Linked DNA regions of Homo sapiens. The protein of the gene in region 1 purifies or fractionates together with the protein of each later gene. This does not show direct contact. Each region holds a gene or a part of one and is shown on either strand. Other genes may lie near its edges. The genes, in order: TMEM154, GIT2, ARHGEF7 and OPA3.

Region 1 (2,906 bases):
AGTGGTGGAAGAATATTGGGTATCTGAAGAGGTAGCCACCCTGGCCAGAAGGTGCTAAACACTAAACATACATCATCTCATTTTAATCCTAGTAATTACTTATGAGGTAGGTTTAGAGAACTTATACCTTGTTCCATGTCTTTCCAACTCCAAAGCACAAGTTTTTAATCACTGCACTGCACTGCATCCCCAATAACTAGCCGTAGGAAAGTGTTTTAAAAGGCATCACTTGGCGGGGTGCAGTGGCTCACACCTGTAATCCCACCACTTTGGGAGGCCGAGGCAGGCGGATCACCTGAGGTCAGGAGTTTGAGACCAGCCTGGCCAACATGGTGAAACCCCCGTCTCAACTAAAAATACAAAAATTAGCCAGGCATAGTGGCATGTACCTGTAATCCCAGCTACTCAGGAGGCTGAGGCAGGAGAATCACTTGAACCTGGGAGGCGGAGGTTACAGTGAGATGAGATCACACCATTGTACTCCAGCCTTGTCTAAAAAAAAACAACAAAAAAACAAACAAAAAAAAGTTTCAGTCATTGTCAAGGATGCCTTAAGGTGAGCATAGCCTGAGATAAGAAGTAACAGAGGCTGCAGGCTGAGATAAGAAGGAACAGAGGCAGTGAAGGCAGGACCCTAGGCCCAGAAGTAATGGTCTATCATGCTGAGAAAAAAGCCAGGGCTTAGAATAGGGGTGATAAGTAAAAAGCCTAGTTTTAAAATCTAAGTGCTGGTAAAGGTTTGGTCACTAGGTGAAAAAATAAAGTTCCCACTTACTAGAGCTGACATAAACAGCATATGATCCTCTTTAAGGTTGCAGTGGAGAGGCATGTCCAGGGACTCTCAAGTTAGAGACAGGTGTGTTTAGTGCTAGAATTGGAAAGACATTCAAGCAGACTGGCATGTTGCCTCTTCACAGCCATAGTCGTGCTGGCTTGCAGGATACTCCAGCCTAGAATGTATATAGGAGTGTGGAGAACAGCAAAATCAGCATTGCTTGGGATTCAGCCTGAGCTCAAGTGGCCCACCCCTGGAGGCATCCAGTGTTCACACTTCCCAAGAGAGAAAACCTGATTGGATGGGTGTTTCAGCAGTCTATTGCTGCTTAAACACCTCAAAACTTAGCAGCTTAAAACAACAACACTCAATTTATTTTTCACACAAATCTGCAATTTGCATGAGGCTCAGTGCAAATGGTTCAACTCTCTCCCACACGGCATTGGCTGGGCAGTTCAACTGGATCTGGGGGTCCCACTTTCAGATGACTCACATGGCTGGCAAGTTTGTTCTGGCTGTCGGATAGGAGCCCAGCCAAGCCTGTGGTCCAGCGGCCTTGGCTTTTATGATGTGGGCCTCTCCATAGACTCCTTGGGCTTCTTCACAGCATGGCAGCTGAGTTCCAAGAGCAAGTGTCCCAAGAGAGCAAAGTAGAAATGCATAGTATTTTTATAATTTAGACTCAGAAATCACATCACATCACTTCTGCCATACTTTATTGTTTGAGACAGTTACAAAGTCTACCTAGGTTCAAGGTGGAAAGGACATAAACCCCACTTGTCCTTGGAGGCGTGTCAAAGCCACATTATGAGAAGAGCAAGTGGGATAAGGGATTTGTTGCAGGCACCGTTGGAAAATGTGATCTGCCCAAATTGGTGTGTCTTCATGCAATATCGAGGAAATATATTAGGTAGTTTCGTGTCAAGGAACATTGTGGATATTTGACCTCCCTGAATCCCAGTGCCTATGTGCTCTTTGGCTTGGACATAGACCCCTGGTCCAGTAGTCTGTAGTAGGTGGTAGAACTAGTTTTACCAACTACATGAGTCATGAGCCATGGGACTGAATGGGTTGTAGGTGGATCAGACACATAGAAATGTATGACTACTCTCAAAGCATGAGGTTAAAATGGGAGCAGATTAGACTGAGCACCTTGAGGATAGGGATCAGTCTTACTCATCTCTGTATCCTGAAAAGTGCTTGGCGCTACTGCACGCTCCATAATAACAGAAAAACCAATTATTTAATGAGCTAGGAGTTACATATCATCTTTCCTTAAGTACCTAATCAGTCTTTATCATCAGTGAGTGCAGAACTCAAATATGGTATTGTTCATCTTCCATCACCATTTTCTCCCAAGTTTCCTGGTTTAATTGCATTTTCCTCACTTTCCATCTAATGGATCCTGATGTCATTCTTTATCTTTATTTCATATTGTCCTATTGTGTGTATTGTATTGTATTTTTAGCTACATTAAATCCAATATGGAAGGAAGCAGAGAACGATCATAATTGAACTAACAAGCAAGTGGAGGTGGAGAGAAAGTGGCCCCAATTTGGAAGGTGAAGGAAAACTGGGGATGGAGCCTAACTGATCATTAAAATGCTCGAAGCAGCTCTTTCCAACCCAGATCTGAGCTTCTCTTCTTTGCCCTCTGGAGGGTCCACAGAGAAAGGAAATACAAGTTTTATTAAGAAAAAGAGGAAAGCATCTATTTTAGGTGATAATACAAGCACAGAGAAGGATTGTTTCTTCTCTGGGCAGGAAGACAGATTCACAAAATAAGAGGCACTGTAAATCCTTCCTGAGATGTTCCCCAGCACCTCTGAATGTCACTGAGACCAACTAAGCCAGTTAATGGGCTAAGACCCACTTACCTCTTAACTCCATGAAATCCATGCAGAAATACCTCCATCTTGTTACAAGTGCCAATTGATTGCTTTTTACCTGGCATGAAGGTGCCTTTCTGTTCATAACCCACCCTGTCCCATTCCTAAGGGAACCCCATCCTTCCTCTTGGCTTGTACTGTTAGACCCTCTGCCTTCCGGCAACTGAGATGAAGATTCTAAGGAAGCAGCCACATGAACTCACGTCAGGATCAGTGTTCCAGGGGCGTCCAGAGCATGAGCA
Region 2 (7,719 bases), on another chromosome or scaffold:
CTCTAAAATGCATGTACACCATCTTTACCATTTTTTAAGAGTTTATTCAAACCCTTTCAAACCATATAATGAAAAGTTATGGGCTTTCAATCAAAGACGAATCCTGGGAGCCAGTGAGTATGGTGGTTAAGAGGGTTGGCTCTAGAGACAAGGAGTTCAGGGTTTGAACCCCAACTCTGCCACTTCTTGCACAATGATCTCAGACAAGTTACTTGAGTGTTTTCACCATGGTTCAAATGAGAACAATGACAAATCTCGGGATAGTAAGGATATAGAGAATAAGTGAAGTACCTCACACATAGTAAAGTAGTAATGTTAGTTGTTATATCTTTTCTAAATTATTTTCTCAGTATTCAGATATTTTCTAGACGTGAAATTCATGATCACTGGACAAAGTTTTTGATGGGAAATACTTAAAACATTGAACATTTCATGTGACCACTCTACTACTGTACTGAAAATCTCCATGGAGTTTTCAAGTAATTGAACTCAGAGTGTGATGTATTTGAAATGAACCAGATTCATTAAAAAAAAAAAAGTAGAATATTTAAGAAGATGTGATCATGGTTAAATGTTTGCATAAAATAAAACAGAATCAAAATAATTCAATTTAGTATAACTCTGTCGCTATTACTGTATCATCCTAAAAAGCAGAGATTGGAAATGTCCAGATGAAGGAGCTCTACAAAGATGCATTAACAACACTGCTTCCTGCAGTATAGTACTGACACTAATGGCAAAAAAAAAAAAAAAAAAAAAAGACTGTTTTGAAGCATAGCTTTGGTTTTCACTTATTCAGAGGATTTGCAGTATTCTTTTTTTAGCAAGTATTTAACACATATTAATTAAGACAAGTATTCGACTAACCACTTTAGCATCCTGGATCAGAATCCCATGGAAAGAATATTAGAATGTTAACATAGTAAAATAAAAATGTTTGTATGAATGAGATTGGGTAAAACCCTTTAAGTTCATCTGGAGCCAGGGCTCCAGGGACACCACAAATGAACTTCAAAAATGTTTGTGACTCCCCCAGACAAATCTTAGGTAAATTCGTTCACGTGCATTTTAGGGGAGAAGGCCTTAGCATTCAACAGAATCTCAAAGGGGTCCCTAACCCTACAGGTAATTCTCTCAGTAGGGCTGTGCAGAAAAGGCAGCACAAATTCCCAGCTGCTCAATTTCACAGAATATTTCAAGGTAGCCTAATTATATTCAAAACAGGAAGGAAGTGACTCAAGTCTCTGCAGATTAGGCGTATGAGACAACAACTAAAGCGATACAATGGAAGAGAAAATGTTCTGAAATGCACAAAATGCTGCAAAAGTATATTTAGGATGGCAATGGAGGAACAATTTTGCTTTGCCCTGTACCCTATCAAGAAGCAAAACAATATGCATTCCAAGAGGAAGTTAGAAGCTAGACACATGTGAATCAAATACATCACGGTAAGTTCAACTGAAAATAGGCAAGAAAATAAGGAAGTGGAACAAATAACATTTTTAGAGAAAATGATGGAGTTTGTATAACTCACACTAACTTGGTTTAGAAAACACTTCTTTTTAAACTCCTCCATACCCCCTCCCTATCTTCAAAGGAAACTGGTAACACCTGCACTGTACGGGCCATAAAACAACCACATGAGGTTTGAGTTATCACAGTTCTATTTACAATTGGTCTCCACTTCCAAATGACAAGCTTAAGATCAGAACAGTTGCAAAGCCAGTGGTGTTCAATGATTTAATTAAGATTGTTTATCGGACACTATTGTGCCAAGAAAGCCATGTTACCTTCGAATTAACTCAAAGCCAATACATCCAAGCACCTAAAACAGCATGTAATAATCTATCCAGAGACCTGACAATTCAGTTGCAATTGCTAAGACACACTTGATCTCTAAATGTGAATATTATGTATGAACAGTTATGCATCATTATGAAGGAATGGCTTTAGCGTTTCAATGCCCCTATATTGCTGGTGATTTTGCGTTTGTTTCCGTTGTAATCAACGTATGATTTAGATAGTCAAATATAGCTTTAAGGGACTACAAGAGTTCTACTGTAGACAGCATAATGCAAAAAAGAAAAGCCTTAGATGATATGATTCTACGAGTATTCATTGAATCTTCCTCACCACTAAGCGTGATACTCCCGATTATCCTCATTGAAAAAAATGAGGAAATCAAGCAAGTGACCAAGTGAAGTCACCAGCCCAAGGTCAGCCAGAAGCAAAATCTAGTTTGAACCCAGGCCGTTCAGATCCTCAAACTTGAGACAAGCACTGCCTCCTAAGTGCTGGTTGTGTTTGGAAGACCCCGATCTCCTGGCAATTCTCCCGGGCAGAGTAGCTGTCGGATGTCAGCAGCGGGGAAGTCATCTACGGGGACCCTCTGGCGAGTCTCAGGGAGTGTCATCCTCCCCGGGCAGGACACCCAGGCGGAGAAAGGGTCTAGTGGGAGGTGACACCTGCAGCCTCTGGAGGCTGCAGCCGGGAGGACGCTCACATTTTACTTCTGTAATTGGCTTTCCTGTGGATTGCCCAAGCCCCTTCCTGTTGGGGGAGCAGCCCTGGCCCCCGTCACCTCCCCAGTTGGCCTAGGACGGAGGGAACGGGAGGGAACGAGAGGGAAGGGAGGGCCGCGAGGGACGGGGAGGGCGGCGGCCCCCTGCCCGCCCGGCTCTGACAGGCCCGGGACGGTTCCCACCCCAAGGCCGCCCAGGGACCTCTTCGTTGCGACCCTAGCCGCGGGATGCAGCCTGACCTGAGGGGGCGGCCCCGGGGTAGGGGTCCGGGCCAGGAAAGCAGAGGGGAGCGGGCCCGGCCGGTGCGACTCACCCGGCCCGCTGCAGTCAGCGCACACCTCGCTGCTCCGGAGCCGTTTCGACATGGCTCCCACCTCCCACCTGCGGGGAACTAGAGGCCGGGGGACAGCAAAGGCGGCGGTGGCGGCGGCGCTTCCGCTCTAACGGGTCCCAGCTGCGGCGGCGCTGACGGCGGCGCCTCTCCCCTCAGCGCCTTGCAGCCTTGGCACAGCACGCACGCGCGGGGAGGTGCCCTTCGGCGAGTGTCAGGTCATGTGACCGGAAAGGGCACTCTGCCTTGTCGCCATCTTGAGTGAGGGCAGGAGACTGCCCGAGTATCATCTGTCCTACCTTTAAATATTGAATTTGGGTCTTCTTCTCTGGCAGAGATTCCCCTCGTCCCAACTGATTAATACCAGGGGAAGTAGCAATATCTTGTGATGAGAACCCTGCAGCCACAACCTTCCTGAGGCAATCAATGGTCAAGTTCATTCATTCATTCCTTGATTCAACAAATGTTTATCAAGCACTTACCATGCTTTATATACTGTCCCAGCCACTGGAGAAACAGCAGTGAGCAAAGACTGAATTTCTAGTCCTTATGAAGCTTGCATTTTACTGGGGTAAAGTAAAATAAGAATATATTATATGATTCCAGGCTGGGCGTGGTGGCTCACTCTTGTAATCTCAACTCTTTGGAAGGCTGAGGCAGGAGGATCACTTGAGGCAGGAGTTCGAGACCAGCCTGGGCAACATGGTGAAACCCCATCTCTACTAAAAATACAAAAATTGGCCGGGCGCGGTGGCTCACGCCTGTAATCCCAGCACTTTGGGAGGCCGAGGCGGGTGGATCACGAGGTCAGGAGTTCAAGACCAGCCTGGCCAACATGGTGAAACCCCGTCTCTACTAAAAATACAAAAATTAGCCGGGCACAGTGGCAGGAGCCTGTAATCTCAGTTACTTGGGAGGCTGAGGCAGGAGCTTGAACCCAGGGGGTGGAGGTTGCAGTGAGCTGAGATCACGCCATTGCACTCCAGCATGGGCGACAGAGTGAGACTCCGTCTCAAAAAAAAAAAAAAAAAAAAAAAAATTAGCCGGGCGTGGTGGCGCATGCCTGTAATCCTAGATACTCAGGAGGCTGAGGCATGAGAATCGCTTGAGCCTGGGAGGTGGACGTTGCAGTGAGCAGAGATCGCGTCACTGCACTCCAGCCTGGGGGACAGAGCGAGACTGTCTCAAAAACAACTTCAACAACAACAACAAAAATAACAAAAAAGAATATATTAGATGATTCCTTAGGCTTCAGTTTTAATCTCATGTTCAAAATTAAGATAATGCATTGTTTACTTCTAGTCCACGATTTGTTTTTGTATGGCTTGCTACTTAAGAATGATTTTTACATTTTTAAAGGGTTGCGAGATGAAAATGAAGAAGAGAGAGAGGGAAATAAAGAAAAAGAGGAAGAAGAATATGCGACAAAACTTGTATGTGACCAGCAAAGTTAAACATTCATTTTGGCTAAGGACAGATGGAATAAATTATGGGAAAAATGTGATACACCTGCTGGATAGTAACCCCTCAGTAAATAGTAGCTCCCATAATTATGGATATTGCTATTATTTTCTAATTACTGTTTTTCTTCATATGCGTGGAATTTGAGAATAACAATAGCTAACATGGGATAATTTACAAAATGGTGTGAGATAAACACAATGAAATGAGGTAAATCAGTGTGAAGGAGAAAGGAGATGTGACCCTAATACCAATGACTACTTATTGTCTGTCTTACATATAAACACAGCTATGATCTCCATTCAGCAAATATTGAATGCCTGTTGTTAGCCAGGTACTATTTTGGTTTTAGATACTCTGGTAAGCAAAACGATGTGGTTCCTGTCATTATGGGGTTTTCTGATTAATGAGATAGGGAGATTTTCAATAAACACGGCATGATGAAGAAGAAGGAGAACGTTAAGTTGCAAAAGGCATCTGAAAGAATGAGAAGTGCTGGAAAAGGCCTCAGAAGCACTGGTCTTGAGTCCATCTCTACAGTGTGATAAATGTGTGATGGAGAAATAATCACAGAATTCCCACGCATTCCATGGTTAGAGTCTCCGGGTGCCATCCTGGTGCTCCTGCATCCTGTTTTGGTTTAACAACTCACAAATCTTCTGGGCTCCACATCTGTGGAGAATGGATTAGGTTGGGATTCTTGAACAGCTGTTGTTGCAGGCATCTGAAGAGCTGGATGTGCATACACTCAGAGGGCAGAGGGAATGTTTTCACAATGCATTAAATAGCTTCATCCAGCTATGTGGTCTAGTTGTAGACAGCTGAGCTGAAGCAGCAGCAGAAAGTTCAAGCCCATGAGTAGCTAGCTGTAAGTTGATTTGGTTCTTCATTGAGTCAAGGAGGCATAGTGCCTGAAACTCAAAGAATAAACTTCATATTCGCAGACTGTGGTCAAATATGTATATTATTTATCAGTCCTTTCAGCCATAACCTCAAATCCAAAAAGCTAGCTTAAAAATGACATTCATACATGGACTAAATCACCACCATAGTTAGCTATTGAATCATAACCCGGTTCGGAGTTCAAATAGAAGCGGTTCTCAACTGAGGACGATTTTTCTCCCCGAGACGACATTTGGCAATATCTGGAGAGACATGTTTTGGGGAGTGCTACTGGCATTGAGTGGGGAGAAAGACCAGGGCAACTGCTCAGCATCCTACAAGGACCGGACAACCCCCACACAAAAACTGCCCAGTTCAATATGTGCCGAGGTTGAGAAATCATGAAGTAGAAATATCCCCTTTTATGCAAATACTGTATTTGAAGCCACTTCGCCAGGGTTTAGCGTTCCTCCTTCAAAAATTGTCCGGTGTTGCCCACTTCCAAAATGGCTTTTGACCCGTCGTGGAAGCATCTGTCCTGCTCCAAAAAGGCTGCAAGGGTGTCGGCAGCTGGAATGGTTTGGTCCGGGGCTCAGTTGTCACCCCCTGACTTCAGAGCCAATGGAAGAGGCCCAGTTGTGGACCGAACCACATGGGGCTACTGGAGCAGGGGGAAAGAAGCTGGGGACAGGTAGACGGAACTTTCCGCGTGGAGATCTTTGGCCAAGAGAATGAGCCTCAGCTCTGTTCTGTGGGCTGCACTGAGTTTCTCGGTGTGAGCTGGAGGTGGGTGCAATGGCGCGGACCCCGGACCCGGTGCCCAAGGTCGCCTATCCCCGCCGCGGCATGCGGTGGTTCGCTCTCCGCACTTCCCTGTTTGGGGCAGTTAGGTCCGCAGAAGTCTGTCCGCGAGCTGTCAGCGCGGGCGGGAACGCCGCGGGGCGCGGGGTGGGCGCGGCCGACCTGGTCCCTGAGCCGGCCGGCGACCCCGGACCTCCCGCGCGCCCCGCACCCGACCGGCTCAGCCGGCCGGCAGCGTAACACGCCCTACGCTCGCTTGCTCGCCGGCCTCAGGGCAGGCAGGCGGGCGCGGGAGACCCCGCCGGGGCCGAGACTTGGGGCGGGCGACGAGGACCAGGTTACGGCCTCCTCGCCATGTCCTCGGCCTGCGACGCGGGCGACCACTACCCCCTGCACCTCCTAGTCTGGAAAAACGACTACCGGCAGCTCGAGAAGGAGCTGCAGGGCCAGGTGAGGGGCGGGGCGGGGGTCCGTCTCCCGGTGGGGACTTCGGGGAATCGGGGGTCGTTTCGCCTCCCTGAGCCCATTTCCAGCCCTCTGTCCCCGGGATCCCCAGACCCCTTCCACTTTGCAGGTGTGGGACAGTCCTAATAATAGGACACGTATCGAGTGCTTACCGTGCGACGGGCTTTTTAAATATCTTCTCTCTTCACCTTTCCAATAACGCTGGTGGGTAGGTACTGTTACTTTTCCACTGGACAGAGAAGGAAACAGGTCCTCAGACGCTACGTGCCTTGTGCGAGGCCGCCCCGCTGATAAATGCCAAGTCGGGATTTTAACTCGGGCCGGCTGGCTCCGGAATGCACCGTCTTAACCATTTTTAGGTTCTGCTGCCTCAAAGACGTAAGAATAGCACACTCTCCTTGTTGTAAGGAAGGGCTTGGTTGGTTTTGGAGTCCAGGTTCTAACTCGCCCTGTGACCTTGGGCAAGGCATTTTCCCTCTCTGGCCGACGTTAACTTAGCTGTAGAATGAGGATGTTGGTGCTGGGGCAGAACCCAACACTTGACTCTATTGATAGGTCTGGGGTGAGGTCCAGGTGCCGCATTTTTAACAAACTCCCCAGGGAGGCTGATACCTAGCAAAGTTTGAGAATCACGGGTTCTCAGGCTCCTTAAAATCCCTTCCTGTTCTAAAGTGCTTTGATGCTTTAATCTTTTCATTATTGCTATCTCTTTAAAGCAGTAGTGCTCTCAGTTGGAGGTGATTTTGCACCCACGACCCCCCGGGGACATTTGGCAATGTATGGGACATTTTTGGTTGTTGAAAGTGGGGAGTGGGTGCTTCTGGTAGTGGGTAGAGGCCGGTTATGCTGCTCAACATCCTACAATGGCCAAGACAGCCCCCCGCAACTAAGACTTCTCCGGCCCCCAAAGCCGACAGCGTCTTGGTTGAGAAACTCTGCTTTTCTTTCTTTCCTTCTTTTTTTTTTTTTTTTTTTGAGACTGAGTTTCGCTCTTGTTGCCCGGGCTGGAGTGCAATGGTGCGATCTCGGCTCACTGCAACCTCCGCCTCCTGGGTTCAAGCGATTCTTCTGCCTCAGCCCCCCAAGTAACTGAGATTACAGGGATGCACCACCACGCCCGGCTAATTTTGTATTTTTAGTAGAGATGGGGTTTCTCCATGTTGGTCAGGCTGGTCTCAAACTCCCGACCTCAGGTGATCCGCCCGCCTCAGCCTCCCAAAGTGCTGGGATTACAGGTGTGAGCCACCACGCCTGGCT
Region 3 (7,036 bases), on another chromosome or scaffold:
CAGAGAGGACGTTCACGGCGTGTCAGATTCTTCTGCTCATTTAAAGGAAACTTTCCACCCAGGTTCCCGCTTTGCTTTTAAGGTGGAAGGTTAGACAGTGAGAAGATGGAATTATAAACTTTACATGAACAGTTCAGAAAAGAGACACTTTTCATTATACTGGACAGATGTTTTCTGCTGTAGGGGAGAGGAAAATGGGATTAAAAAGTTTTCGCCTTCTCTGTATCTGGAGATCCTGCACTTTGGTTTTCTCCAGGAGGGGTCAGGATGTTTGGCTGGGCTGCCCATGTCTTCGGCTTCCCACACTCCTCCCGTGAGCAGAGGTCATGACGTCTAGGGAGCCCTGGAAGCCCTTTTCTCACAAATTCACTTTAAACATCCCTAGGGTATTTAGTCAAAGGAGGTGAAATCAAGATACATGAATTGTAGAGGATGGAAAATTTCTATAAGACTAATACAACACATTAAAATCATGGAAATCATGAAATGCTCTTTTAATTTCACTTGTGAATGCAACAAATGAAGTCTCTTAACTCACTATAAAAAACTCAAGGAACTTGGTTCTTTCTCTGTGTGTCCCAGGAGAACAGAACACAGAGAACCTTCCTGTGTAATCCATGTGATGTGCTCCCGAGAACCCTGGCTAGGTGTTTGTGGAATGTAATTGAAAATCAGACGCTGCCTCGGGTCTTAGTGCTGGATGTGGAGGCATTTGTCTCTCAGCTCTGGAGGCCCAAAGTCTGGGATTAAGGTACCTGCAGGGCCTCGTGCCCTCAGAAGGCTCCAAGGAGGGGTCTGTCCCAGGCCACTCTCAGGCTTCTGGTAGTTCCTGGCTTGTGGCAACACAAGTCCAATCTTCACATGATGTCCGTGCTGTGGTTTCTTCTCTGTGTCCAAATTCCTCCTTTTTAGCAGGACATCAGTGGAATTGCATTAGGGGCACCCTACCCCAGTATGGCCTCATCTTAACCGATTACATCTGCATTAACTTCATTTCTGAATAAGGCCCCATCCTGAGATACTGGGGGTTAGGACTTCAAAATACGAATGCTGGAGGAGCACAGTTCAGCTCATGACAGGTTGTTTCTACATTTGAACCAGATCAGTTTATTAGCTATTGATCTGATTGCACAATGCCAGGTGCTAGGGGAGATTGCAAAACCTAAATAATAGAGTCTTGGGGGTTCCAGTACAGAAAATGTAACTCGAAAGACAAGAACAGCATGAGGCAGAAGGAAGTCAAGAGTCGTAATGTCAGATATGGATGAGAAGGAGCAAAAGAATCAAGGAGCTAAAAAGACCAGCATTTGAGCAGGTCAGACCCAAGACTTTGCTGACGTGTGGGTAAGAATATGGTTTGCATTTCCCAAACTGTAACCTGGCAGCCCTAGGTGATTTTCCACAGGCTTGCAGAAAATCAGCAAATCTGATGTTGCATAGGAAAAAAGGAAATACTTTTTTCTAGGTAAACTGGAGACTCACTTTCTGCTCAGTGTCAGGATTCTGGGGTTGGTTAGGGGCTGGGGTGAGGAGAAGCAGAAGTGCTCACCTGCTAGAAATGTGCCTTTTCTTAGGTCCTTTGGCCCTAAAAAGAACGTGATGAGTGATCACATGTGGTGGTAGGGTAAGGTTCTCACTCAGGCCCGTGACCTGTAGCCGTCATAAAGACTTGTTGATTGGCTAAGTCACTTATAGAGAAGTTATAATATGGTATCTCCAGACTGTGTTTTTAAGGAGACTTCTTTAAACCCTGCAAACTGAATAACTGGTTATATCAAGTTGCTTCTAACTAAACTACCCTGAATATGGTTCCAGAATAGTGAATTTTGCAATAATAAACATTTCCTTTTGAAGCATGTGACTTTATAGTCCTGTCTCAACCCTGAACCAGTGTGATTCTTGTTTGGGTTTCAGGCCTAGGGAAGAAGGTAGCTGGAACTGCATTTGCTGGCTCACTAAAAAGAAAGCAAACAAACTGAAATTCAATTTAAATCAGGAGTGCCTGAAGAGATTTCCTGAGAACCAGACTAGAAACTAGTGTTTATGTTGGCATCACACAGACACAGGAGAGCACACACACAAGCATACACACACGCATACATGCACACTTGCACATGCATGTGCACACACGAACTTATGCACACACGCATGCATGCCTGCACAAACATGCACATACGTAAACACATGCATGTAAATACACACACACACAGACACATGCGTGTACATAGACACGCACACACGCACACACAGACACGTCTGACGGGGGTTGAGGGAGTGGGGGAAGGAGTGCTGGCACATGTGGCATTCCATTTTCTCAGGGGCAGCTGCTCTGTGAACTCTCCAAGCCCAGTCCAAAGGATGCCATCTCAGGACCCGGCCCTCATTCTATTAATAGAAGTCACTCCAGAATCTGCCTGCTCGCCTCCTTTCTTTAGGCACTGCCTGCCTTTCTATACATCTTAAAAGAGAATAAGATGTCTGCCCAGCATGGCAGGCAGCATGCTCCTCTCGTTTGCAGGCGCTGTCCCTCGCAATACCCATACTGCAGATGAGGACCCTGAGGTCTGGCAGTTAGCTTTGCCCCAGGTCATCTGGCTGCACTCGGAGGCGGAAGATTCCAGCTCAAGACTGTGAGCTTTCTCATGGAAAACAAGACTGATTCTGCCACCTATACTGAACTTAGGGGAAGATTCGCAACCACTGCCTTCAGAAATTTACAAACCAGATCAGGAAAGGAGACGGAGGCAGCAGTGTAACTGAGCACCCAGGGGGGACAAAAGTGAGGACTGGAGGGGCTGGCTCAGGTCACCGGCCACAGGGGCAGAGTGGGAGCCCTCAGGAGTGCCTGGAGCCACTGCAGGTGTCTCACTTCTCGGGACATCTGGAAGCAGCTCTGCCCTTCAGTAGACAGACCCCAAAGGCACCCAGGGTAGGGCCCCTTGCCCTGGGGGAACCTGCAGAAGCTCCTGCAGAAGTCTGTGTCTGGGCCTTTCTCCCCGGCCGCAGAACGTGTGTTCCGTGTTCCTGTACCATCCAATAACTCACTGTAGTTTCTGGGCTTCCCTACTCTGTAGGGCTTACCAGATTTCCACTTAGTCCAAGATTTCAAACTGTGTGCATCTACACCACACACACTTTTAAAATTCAAGTACTATGTACACACGAACATCTCTCTCCCTTTAGAGGCCACTGATCACTCTAAAATGTAAAGAGTGGAGGCGATGGGGGCTGTGAGGTGAGTGGGGGCAGAGCCGTTTGTTCTTGTGTAGGGTGGATTTTAGCCGTTTGGATTGGAGTCTTGTGTAGGCTTGACGCCCACGCGTCTCTCACTGCACGAGGGAGGTGGCAGAGGCACATCATCCCTTTGGGCACGCAACTCTACCACGTGCATCGCTGGGAGATGGGAGGACTGGCATCCCCCGAACCCACGGGTCCCTGCCTGGAGACACTGGGAGACCCGGTCCTCTGCGTGCTTCAGAGTCAGGCACACCTGGCTTTGTTCCCGCAGCCATTTGCTCTGTGACTTCCGGCACCTGTCTAACCTCTCGGAGTCCTAGTTTCTTCCTCCTAAAAATGAGATGAATGATATCCACTGGTGGGGGCAGTGAGGTCATTACCAGGGTAAATGAGTAGATGTGCTGGGCACAAAGTCATTCCTCAGTACGCAGTAGTTACTGTTTTGTTGATTGACACTGAAAACCTTCCCCATCGTGTCCAGAAGACTGTAAGCCAAGATTTGAACCTCAGAGCCATCCAAATCCAGGAACACGGGTTAATTCTCACAACAGGGCAGACTCTTGCAACTTTCGGGGGCTGGCAGCCTCTGCATCCCACTCTGGACAGACCACCATTGTCTGGGTTGGTGGGCCTGCTGAACGTGGCTTCCAGGGCCCTCTGGTCAGCGCCAGATCTGGGCGCAGCTGCTGAGTGCACACAGCTGCTGGTTGGGGAGCGGGAGGGCTGAGCGGGTGGACTCAGGTTTCGCTTATATAAAGTTTCATGCATCAGCAGGGCCGGGAGTCAGAGATGGGAAGTGAGGGCCAGCCTGCCCCACCTGGTGTCTGCAGAGAGAGGGCTTTGGGGCCGCCCCGGTCCGACTGCTTCCCGGGTACAGCTTCTGACTTCTCCCTCCTTTATCAGTTCTGTCAAGTTAGGGTAGGAGAATTAATCTCTTGATGTTTTTATATTTCTAACTTTAGCTTTGAATTTTTAAGGTTTGATGCACCAGGCTGGCAGTTCTCAACTCTGTTTTTGCAGGATGGTGTCATGTCTGCTGGGGTCTCAAGGCGAGGCGGTGAGGGGAACTGAAATGGAATGTGTGCACAGTGTATTTCAAACACATGTATGTGAATTCATTTAATCATCCCTTTTACCAGGTTCCTATTGTGTGCGTGCTAGTGACCCAATCACACGCATGGAAGCGCACGCATGGATGCCAGCCATACCACCTCTTCAGGCAGGTCAGAAGAGAAATGCTAGGATCTTGGGTATAAAGTATTTGTGAGTTCTCAGGATGAAGGAATGTAGAGTCATCCAGCCCAGACGCCTCCTTTTGCAGATGGCTTCACTGAGGGCACCTGCATGTGGTTGTGTAAGCTGTGTACTGCCCGGTCTTGGGAGAACCGTTCACACTGTAGTCTAAGCAAATGGCTCCAAGGCCTGTGCTGGGAGGCGGCCCTGGGATACTGTGTATAGAGGTCAGCCTCCCAGGACACAAAGCAGAGTGGAGAAGGGTTGGGGTAGACGATAGAAGTGGCCCCAATTCTCCAACCCTCCCATGCCCCTGGCAAAGTGACCTTGTAGCGCCTCCATCAAGAGGTAGGAGTCTGCTTCCTCACTTCTTGAATCTGAGCTGTGACTTGTTTTGGCCAATGGACTGTGGCAGAAGTGGCCAGTGTTAGTTCCTAGCCCAGGCCTTGGAAAGGCTTGCACTTTTCTGCACTCTCTCAGGCCCTGTGTCTACCTCCGAGGAGACCCCAGGGCTTGGGTGCTGGTGGGGTGTGATCACATGGAGGAGAACTCAGTTGTCCCTGCTAGGCCATCCTGGACCTATCCACAGCCAGCCAACCTCAAACATTGAAGAGAGCCCAGCCAGGGTCAGCAAGCTGCCTGCCCTGCCCAGAGCAGGCACAGCTGCACCAGCAGGCCCGGACCAGGCTGACTCAAGCCAGCCACTGAGGTTTACCATGGCCATAGATAACAAATCACACACACACACATACATGCCCGTGCCATTCTTAACTAGGGGACATGCCGATATATGTAAATACAGTCCATCCCAATCACAAGAGTGCTTGTACCTTTGTTTAAAATACCCTCTATATCCTTTATTTCCTTGATAATTTCCTCTCTAGTATTTTCTCTATTCTCATTTTTTAGAAATCTTATTAAGACTAATCAGAGATAATATCTATTGAGTGCATACTGTATGCCAGGCACTGTTCTAAGGACTTTGCCCATAATAATGGATTTAACCCTCCTCACCACCCTATAAGGGAGGTGGTGACAGGATCGCCCCCATTTTCAGATTAGGAAACGGAGCTCCAGAGCGGCTGGTAACTGGCCATCGTTGGCTGGTGGGCTGCGCCCCCCCCCCCCGGCCCCGCCCCCTGCCCCTGCGGCTGCCAGGCCTGCTGGGTTGAGTCTCTCATTTGCTGACCTTTCCACTTGTATGTTTCTTCTCCTTCTGAAAGACATTTCCTTGACTTTATCTCCCAACTTTTCTACTAACATTTTTTATTTTGACCTACTTTGGCTATTTTTTTTTTAATTTCTAAAAGTTCTTTTTTCTCGTTATCTGGTTTCTCTCTGTTTCTTCCCTTTCAGTCAGTCCCTTCCTGTTTCTGGGAAGATTCCTCTCTTCCTGTGAACATTCATTACAGTTTCCTTGAAGGGTGCTTCCTTCCCTGCATTCACTGTCTCTGTTTCCTCTGAGTCCTCTTATGCAATTCTTTTTTTCCATGTTGGAGATTTACTGAAACATCATGTGATCTTTCAAGTGTGAGGCCCTCAAAATGACCAGGAAGTCCTGTGTGACTGCTGGGGCCCAGGGACATGCAGGTCTCGCCATGGGGCAGCCTGGTGATGCCCAGAAGTCTGAACCTGTTGGTCTCTTCTCCAGCAGCCGTGAGTCTCTCCAGAGACTCCTCCATCTGCTGCCTATCAGAGCAGTGTCCATCCTCACCTTGGCTCCTGTCCATGCTGGCCCTCTCCATGTTCTGGCCTCTTTGGTTCACTTTTCCCCAGAGAATAAGCCTCGGACCCCTGCAAGGATGGCAAGAGGGGTGGCCAGCTGTGATGGGGCTGGGGCCCCTAGGCCTGCATCTGACTCTCAGACAGGTGGCTTGTCTACCACCTGGGAGGGTGCACTTGCCACTGGCTACTGGGATGGGACCTTCTAGTCTCTGCTGAAGCCCCACCCATCCTCCGTCTGCTCCCTGCCTTCATAATGGTGGCCTGGGGATAGGTGTCTTCTAGTTTTTTTTGTTTTGTTTTGTTTTTTAGACAGAATCTCACTCTGTCACCCAAGCTGGAGTCCAATGGCACGATCTCGGCTCACTCCAACGGCCGCCTCCCGGGTTCAAGTGATTCTCTTGCCCCCGCCTCTCGAGTAGCTGAGGCTACAGGTGTGCGCCACCATGCCCGGCTAATTTTTGTATTTTTAGTAGAGACAGGGTTTCACCATGTTGGCCAGGCTGGTCTCAAACTCCTAACCTCACGTGATCTGCCTACCTCGGCCTCCCAAAGTGCTGGGATTACAGGTGTGAGCCAGTGCGCCCAACCAGGTGTCTTCTAGTTTTATTGAAGATGATGCTTGTGTTTCTTGTTCTCCTGGCTGTTTTGGAGGGATTTTTTTTCAAGAGAAGTGAGGCTGAAATAATTTTACTGTACTGCTTTGGACCTGGAATCTTTCCATGATGAGAAAAAGAGAGAGAGTGAGAATATATGAATGAATATCCATGTCCTATGCCCTGGGTTTCATATCTCTTCTTCTGAGTACTTTAAAATTACTAGAGAAAACAAAACTGGAAGCTGG
Region 4 (7,294 bases), on another chromosome or scaffold:
GATAAATGGGAGCTATGAGGGGGTTCTCAGTAGAGGATGAAGGTGATTTGACTTAAGTATTAACAGTATCCCACGGGCTGTTGAGTGGGGAGTAGAATATGGGAGATTGGCTGGGCACAGTGGCTCAAGCCTGTAATCCCAGCACTTTGGGAGGCTGAGGCAGGAGGACTGCTTGAGGCCAGGAGTTTGGGACCAGCCTAGGCAACATAGGGAGACCCAGTTTCTACAGAAATTTTAAAAATTAGCCGGGCATGGTGGTATGTGTCTGTAGTCCCAGCTACTTGGTAGGCTGAGACCGGAGGATCACTTGAGCCAGGAGGTGGAGGCTGTGATGAGCAGTGATTGCACCACTGCACTCCAGCCTGGGCGACAGAGCGAGACCCTGTCTCAAAATAAAAAAGGAATATGGGAGACAAGGATAGAAGTCAGGAGCCCAGTGAGGAGGTGACTGCAGGAGTCCAAGAGGGAGGTGCTGTCAGTTGGGCCGGGTGGGTGGTGGTTGTGGATTTAACAAGGAGCAGTGATCAGCTTTTGGAGTTTTATTTTTGTTTGTTTATTTATTTATTTTGAGACAGAATCTCGCTCTGTTGCCCAAGCTGGAGTACAGTGTCAGGATCTCGGCTCACTGCAACCTCCGCCTCCTGGGATCAGGCAACTCTTGTGCCTCAGCTTCCTGAGTAGCTGGGATTACAGGCATGCACCACCACGCCTGGCTAATTTTTGTATTTTTAGTAGAGACGGGGTTTCTCCATGTTGGCCAGGCTGATCTTGAAATCCTGGCCTCAAGTGATCCTCCCACCTCAGCCTCTCAAAGTGCTGGGATTACAGGCTTGAGCCACCGTGCCCAGCCTTGGATTTATTTTAATGGAAGAAGCACAGGGGCCAGAGGGATTATGAAACACGAGTACCTCACTCATTCCAGGAAAAGGGTGACTAGGGGCTGTGAGCAGAAAAAACTTCCAGGAAGGATCCCAGGCCCTAGTCTAGGGCGGTCACCAGAGAGGCCAGGCAACCAGTCCAAGGTCCCATGGCTGGTGAGTCAGCGCTGGAGCCATCTTGGGTTCCCTCTCCCCTCCCCATCTCTGCTTGTGTTCCCATGCCCCAGGATGGCCAAGGCTGCCCTCCCTCCCCTGGTCTCAGGGGTCACCAGGAATGGCCACTGTTCCATGACCAGGCTGGAGAGCAGGAAGAAGCACCCAGCTCTGAAAAGGCCTCACCCTTCAGAGAAGGTCTCCTCTCCTCTTCCTCCTTACGGGTGTGTAAACAGACTCCTGAGGTGTGAAGATTCACTCACAACCCTCCTACCACCCCGCTCCCCCGGGCCCTCCTCTCCCTTCACAAAGGTTCCCAGAAGACTTTCCCGGGAACCCTTCTCAGAGAAAGGAAGAAGGAGGAGAGGAATAGGGGGAAAAATGCACTCAATGATTTTTCTGGGGTGGAGGGAGCACAGAGATGGCGGAAATCAGGGCTTTGGTGTTGGTGGGCTGGAGGGCTAGAGAAGAGAGGGAGGCCTGGGATCTGGGAGGCCTAGTAGTCTTCCCACCCCATCCCACTGCTGTAAAGCTATGGGAATGGAGGTGATGGGGCCAGAATTTTTCTTTTCTCTCTTTTTTTTTTTTTTGAGACTGAGTTTCGCTCTTGGTTGCCCAGGCTGGAGTGCAATGGCGCGATCTCGGCTCACCGCAACTTCCGCCTCCTGGGTTCAAGCAATTCTCCTGCCTCAGCCTCCCGAGTAGCTGGAATTACAGGCATGTGCCACCACGCTCTGCTAATTTTGTATTTTTAGTAGAGACGGGGTTTCTCCATGTTGGCCAGACTGGTCTCAAACTCCTGACCTCAGGTGATCCACCCGCCTCGGCCTCCCAAAGTGCTGGGATTACAGGCGTGAGCCACCGTGCCTGGCCAATTTTTTTTTTTTTTGAGATGGAGTCTCACTCTGTTGCCTAGGCTGGAGTGCAGTGGCGCCATCTCGGCTCACTGCAAGCTCCGCCTCCTGGGTTCACGCCATTCTCCTGCCTCAGCCTCCCGAGTAGCTGGGACTACAGGCGCCCGCCACCACGCCCGGTTAATTTTTTGTATTTTTTTAGTAGAGACGGGGTTTCACCGTGTTAGCCAGGATGGTCTCGATCTCCTGACCTCATGATCTGCCCACCTCAGCCTACCAAAGTGCTGGGCGTCAGCCACCACGCCCGGCCAATTTTTTTTGTTTTGTTTTGAAACAGAGCCTCGCTCTGTCACCCAGGCTGGAGTGCATTGGCACGATCTCGGCTCACTACAACCTCCGCCTCCCGAGATCAAGTGATTCTCCTGTCTCAGCCTCTGGAGTAGCTGGGATTACAGGTGTGCGCCACCACGCCCAGCGAATTTTTTGTATTTTTAGTAGAGATGGGGTTTCATCGTGTTGGCCAGGCTTGTCTCGAACTCCTGACCTCACATGATCCGCCTACCTGTGCCTCCCAAAGTGCTGGGATTACAGGCGTGAGCCACTGCGCCCGGCCTGGGGACAGAAATTTTATGTTTTTTGAGACAGGGTCTTGTTGTGTTGCCTAGGCTGGAGTGCAGTGGAGCTCATGGCTCACCACAGCTTCAACCTCCCAGGCTCAAACGATCTGTAAAATGGGAAGGGGGCTGGTCCCAAATGGATGATGGACCTTAGGTAGTCCCAAGTTTCTGCATACCTTCCGTGTGGAAGGGACCCTGGAAAAGGTTGTTTTTATGGAATCCTGGCATTCTTAGTAATTCAGAATATCAGGGTTCACACACACACCAGCACCATCAGTAAAGATGAGGAAACGCAGGTCCCTCAGTGCCAGGAGCTTGACAAAGGACACTCAGAGAGTCAGACTGGATACCAAAGAAGTCCAGAGCCCCCTGATTCTGTGTCCTGAATGTATGTTTCCTCCTACACACCACTCCTCTGTTCCTGTTTTCCTTTTTTTTTTTTTTTTTTTTTTGAGACGGAGTCTCGCTCTGTCGCCAAGACTGGAGTGCAGCGGCGTGATCTCGGCTCACTGCAACCTCTACCTCCCAGGTTCAAGCGATTCTCCTGCCTCAGCCTCCAGAGTACCTGGGATTACAGGTGCCCGCCACCATGCCCGGCTAAATTTTTTTTTTTTTTTAGTGGAGATGGGATTTCACGATGTTAGCCAGGTTGGTCTCAAACTCCTGACCTCAGGTGATCCACCCTCCTCAGCCTCCCAAAGTGCTGGGATTACAGGCGTGAGCCATGGCGGCCAGTCCTCTGTTCCTGTTTTCTTCTGTCCCTCTGCCTCCGAGAATCTCTCAATTACCCATCAGCACTCCATCATCCAGGAATTTCTCTCAACCCCTTCCTGACATTGTTTATATGATTTTACTCCCTGCTGGGTAAGAAAGGACAGTCTGGGACATGTCCTTAAATTTATTTCTGAACTAGCTCCCTGGGGAACCTACCTCCTAATGAAGGAAGTTGGGTTGCTTGAGAACGGGTATGGTTTTATTGGCCAAGATGCCAGGCTATCAACCTCTGCAGGAACCTTGTGCCACCCCCTGCCCTGCTCTGGGCCTCAGTTTCCTTGTCAGTTACTTGGGAAAGGGTTGGATTCGCTGCTTCTGGGGGTGAAATGCACCCTCAGGCTGGATTTAGCATTAATAATGCAATCATGACCTGTATAGTAAGAAGGGCTATTTACTGAGCGCTTAACTATATGAATGGCACCATTCTAACCACTTCCCATGGTCCACTGTTTTACACTCAAGATTAGCATAGAAGCCTCACAACAACCCAAAGAGGCAACTGCTATTAGGATTCCCATTTGGTAGACGGTAATACTGAAGTCCAGAGAGGTTATGCCACTCATCTAATATTACACAGCGAGGAAATGGCAGAGCTGGGATCCCAGCCAAAGTCTGTATGACCGCGCGGCTTCCTCTTAATCCCAATGAGAGCCCTAGCTTGCAGAGGAAGGTGTATTTGGGGCTCATAGGACTAATTAGGACTAATTAAGAGCCTCCTTTGGGTGGGGACGCCAACTCGGAACGTGACATCACGAAGGAGTACAGTGACGTTGGCCAAGGCGGGCGTGGGAATCCACACGCCTTCCAGCATCCGTTTAACGGCACCGCCCCCTGACCCGCCTCACTTCCGTGTATATTTGCATATTCAGCGAACGGACGTCGCTACGCCAGCGTCGACGGGGTGACGTCAGGATGCGCCTCTGAAGTTTCCCTCGAGCGTACGTACATACGTACTGACGCACGCATGGCCACGAGAGGGCGGGGGAGGAGTGAAGAGGTTGAGGCGCCCCGCCCAGTCAGCAAGGTTGCGCGTGCCCTGTGAGACCGCCAAGATGGTGGTGGGCGCGTTCCCTATGGCGAAGCTGCTATACTTGGGCATCCGGCAGGTCAGCAAGCCGCTTGCCAACCGTATTAAGGAGGCCGCCCGCCGAAGCGAGTTCTTCAAGACCTATATCTGCCTCCCGCCGGCTCAACGTGAGTCTGACCCGAATTCCCTCCAACCTTTTTCCTTTCTCCAACCCCTGTCAGGTGGTTGCTTAGGGGATGGACTTCTGTCTACGACCAATCACAGCCCGAACCGGCAAAGTCCAGTGGCCAATAGTGGGGGGTTTCTGATAGAGGGGCGTACGGGTGGCCCAGTAGTGAGGGCGGGGCGGGGCGTAAGGGGCGGGTCAAGGAGCCACCACGCGAGTAGGAAATGCCAGCCGATAAAGGAAGAGAGCGCTTGGAGACTGATGCCCTGTTAAACCAATAGTGTGAGAGATGGGAGAAATTTGGACGGGGCTTTCCAGGATAGAGGAGCTAGGGGAGGGGCTGAGGAGAAACCGGACGGGGTCCTTTGCCCGGCTGTCCTTGGGCAACTTCATTTCAAAAGCGGCACCGTGTGCCTCAGTTTCCCCACTGATCTAGGAGGTGCTTGTATATCCTCCGTTTAGGACGTCGACGTGCCTCAGTTTTACTGTAGTCAATAAGTCTGGATTAGGGGCATGGTTCGGGGGTGAAGTCTGGGTTCTGGAGACATGGCCTGGGAATCCGGAAAAGGACTTTGAGCCAGAGAGGACATTCATCTGTGTACTCATTAATGCGCTCATACGCCGTCCTTTCATTCGGTTGACAGACTATGCGGCCTTTTTGCTCAGCACTGGGAGATATACTCCTGATCCATCACTGTCAACCCAGAGTGGTCGGGAAAGTGGGAGCCCCGGAGCTCAGAGGAACTGGCTGACCCAGGGACCTGAGGCCAGCAGGGCTGCCTAGAGGGGGCCGCCCGAGCTCAGATCTAAAGGGCATAGTAAGGTCCGGCGCGGTGGCTCACACCTGTAATACCAGCACTTTGGGAGGCCGAGGCGGGCGGATCACATGAGGCCAGGAGTTCGAGACCAGCCTGGCCAACATAGTGAAACCCGGTCTGTACTAAAAATACAAAAATTAGCTGGGTGTGGTGGCGCACACCTGTAATCCCAGCTACTTGGGAGGCTGAGGCAGGGGAATCGCTTGAACCTGGTAGGTGGAGGCTGCAGTGAGCCTAGATTGTGCCATTGCACTCCAGCCTGGGCGACACAGCAAGACTGTCTCAAAAAATAATAAATAGAAATAAAGGGCTTAGTAAACACCCAAAATATAAACTACTTTAAAAAGGTGATCTTGCCGGGCGCGGTGGCTCACGCCTGTAATCCCAGCACTTTGGGAGGCCGAGGTGGGCAGATCACGAGGTCAGAAGATGGAGACCATCCTGGCTAACACGGTGAAACCCCATCTCTACTAAAAATACAAAAAAATTAGCCGGGCGTGGTGGCTGGGCGCCTGTGGTCCCAGCTACTCAGGAGGCTGAGGCAGGAGAATGGCGTGAACCCGGAAGGCGGAGCTTGCAGTGAGCCGAGATCGTAACACTGTACTCCAGCCTGGGTGACGGAGCAAGACTCCGTCTCCAAAAAAAAAAAAGGTGATCTGTGTTGTGCTACGTGGGACATAAAATAAGGGAATTTAGCATCATTGGCTGGGTCAGAGAACCACTGAAACCGCCTTTGCAAAATTATGACTGACACAGCGAAAGAGATCTAAGTTAACTTACTCCATCTTGCTTCTAACCTCCAAGCTATCCTTGTTCATTCCTGGGCAAAGGCTGAACTAACTTTGGGAGAGATTTAGTTTGTAGTTTATAGTTTAAACAAACATGGTAACAGCCCTTTCCCAAAGCAGACCTCCTTCTTGTCTGGCGACTGGATTGCCTTTGTAGGACTAACATTAGCCACAAGATTAGAAATTATGGTTTAGGAGTCATGCAGCTGGAGGGTACAAGATTCTGACCCTCCCTAAACTGCTCCTAAGATCAGTGCTTGAGATATTTCACAGACCCTGCACTTGATGGATCAGCTGGCCTTACCCAGATCAATAAACTGGCCCATCTGATCTTGTGGCCCCCCAACCCAGGAACTGACTGAGCGCAAGAAGACAGCTCCGACTCCCTGTGATTTCATCTCTGACCAATCAGCACTCCTGGCTCACTGGCTTCCCCTCACCCATCAAGTTATCCTTAAAAACTCTGCTCCACCGAGATCGCACCACTACACTCCAGCCTGGGCGACAGACCGAGACTCCGTCTCAAAACAAAAACAAAAAACAAAAAAACTCTGCTCCAGCTGGGCCCATTGGCTCGCATCTGTAATCCTAGCACTTTGGAAGGCTGAGGGGGGTGGAGCACCTGAGGTCAGGAGTTTGCAACCAGCCTGGCCAGCATGGTCAAACCCCGTCTCTACTAAAAATACAAAAGTTAGGCGGGCTTGGTGGCGGGCGCCTATAATCCCAGCTACTCGGGAGGCTGGAGCATGAGAATCGCTTGAACCCGGGGATGGAGGTTGCAGTGAGCCAAGATCGCGTCACTTCATTCCAGCCCAGGCGAAAGAGTGAAAATCCATCTCAAAAAAAAAAAATAAAATAAAATAAAAATAAAATCTCCCTGAATGCTCAGGGAGACTGATTTGAGTAATGGTAAGACTCCTGGCTGGGGCGCGGTGGCTCACGTCTGTAATTCCAGCACTTTGGGAGGCCGAGGTGGGTGGATCATGAGGTCAGGAGTTCGAGACCAGCCTGACCAACATGGTGAAAACCCGTGTCTACTGAAAATACAAAAATTAGCTGGGTGTGGTGGCGCACATCTGTAATCTCATCTACTCAGGAGGCTGAGGCAGGAGAATTGCTTGAACCTAGGAGGTAGAGGTTGCAGTGATCCGAGATTGCACCACTGCCCTCCAGTCTGGGCAACAGAGCAAGACTGTCTCAATCTCAAACAAACAAACAA

Evidence for each region.
Region 2: the proteins of TMEM154 (region 1) and GIT2 purify together in Homo sapiens (co-immunoprecipitation; 2 studies listed by BioGRID and IntAct, with this or other methods). This does not show direct contact.
Region 3: the proteins of TMEM154 (region 1) and ARHGEF7 purify together in Homo sapiens (co-immunoprecipitation; 2 studies listed by BioGRID and IntAct, with this or other methods). This does not show direct contact.
Region 4: the proteins of TMEM154 (region 1) and OPA3 purify together in Homo sapiens (co-immunoprecipitation; 2 studies listed by BioGRID and IntAct, with this or other methods). This does not show direct contact.

The regions. Positions count from the first base shown.
Region 1 is NC_000004.12:152,618,126-152,621,031, reverse strand, and holds the end of TMEM154 (transmembrane protein 154 precursor), read left to right. Parts: 3' UTR 1-2,404; downstream 2,405-2,906.
Region 2 is NC_000012.12:109,993,338-110,001,056, forward strand, and holds the start of GIT2 (ARF GTPase-activating protein GIT2), read right to left. Parts: upstream 3,032-7,719; 5' UTR 2,888-3,031; coding exon 2,836-2,887; intron 1-2,835. Other genes in the region: ANKRD13A (ankyrin repeat domain-containing protein 13A), read left to right, coding at 6,352-6,447. UniProt on the Homo sapiens protein: GTPase-activating protein for ADP ribosylation factor family members, including ARF1.
Region 3 is NC_000013.11:111,118,277-111,125,312, forward strand, and holds part of ARHGEF7 (rho guanine nucleotide exchange factor 7), read left to right. Parts: intron 1-7,036. UniProt on the Homo sapiens protein: Acts as a RAC1 guanine nucleotide exchange factor (GEF) and can induce membrane ruffling. Functions in cell migration, attachment and cell spreading. Promotes targeting of RAC1 to focal adhesions. May function as a positive regulator of apoptosis.
Region 4 is NC_000019.10:45,581,799-45,589,092, reverse strand, and holds the start of OPA3 (optic atrophy 3 protein), read left to right. Parts: upstream 1-4,290; 5' UTR 4,291-4,328; coding exon 4,329-4,470; intron 4,471-7,294. UniProt on the Homo sapiens protein: May play some role in mitochondrial processes.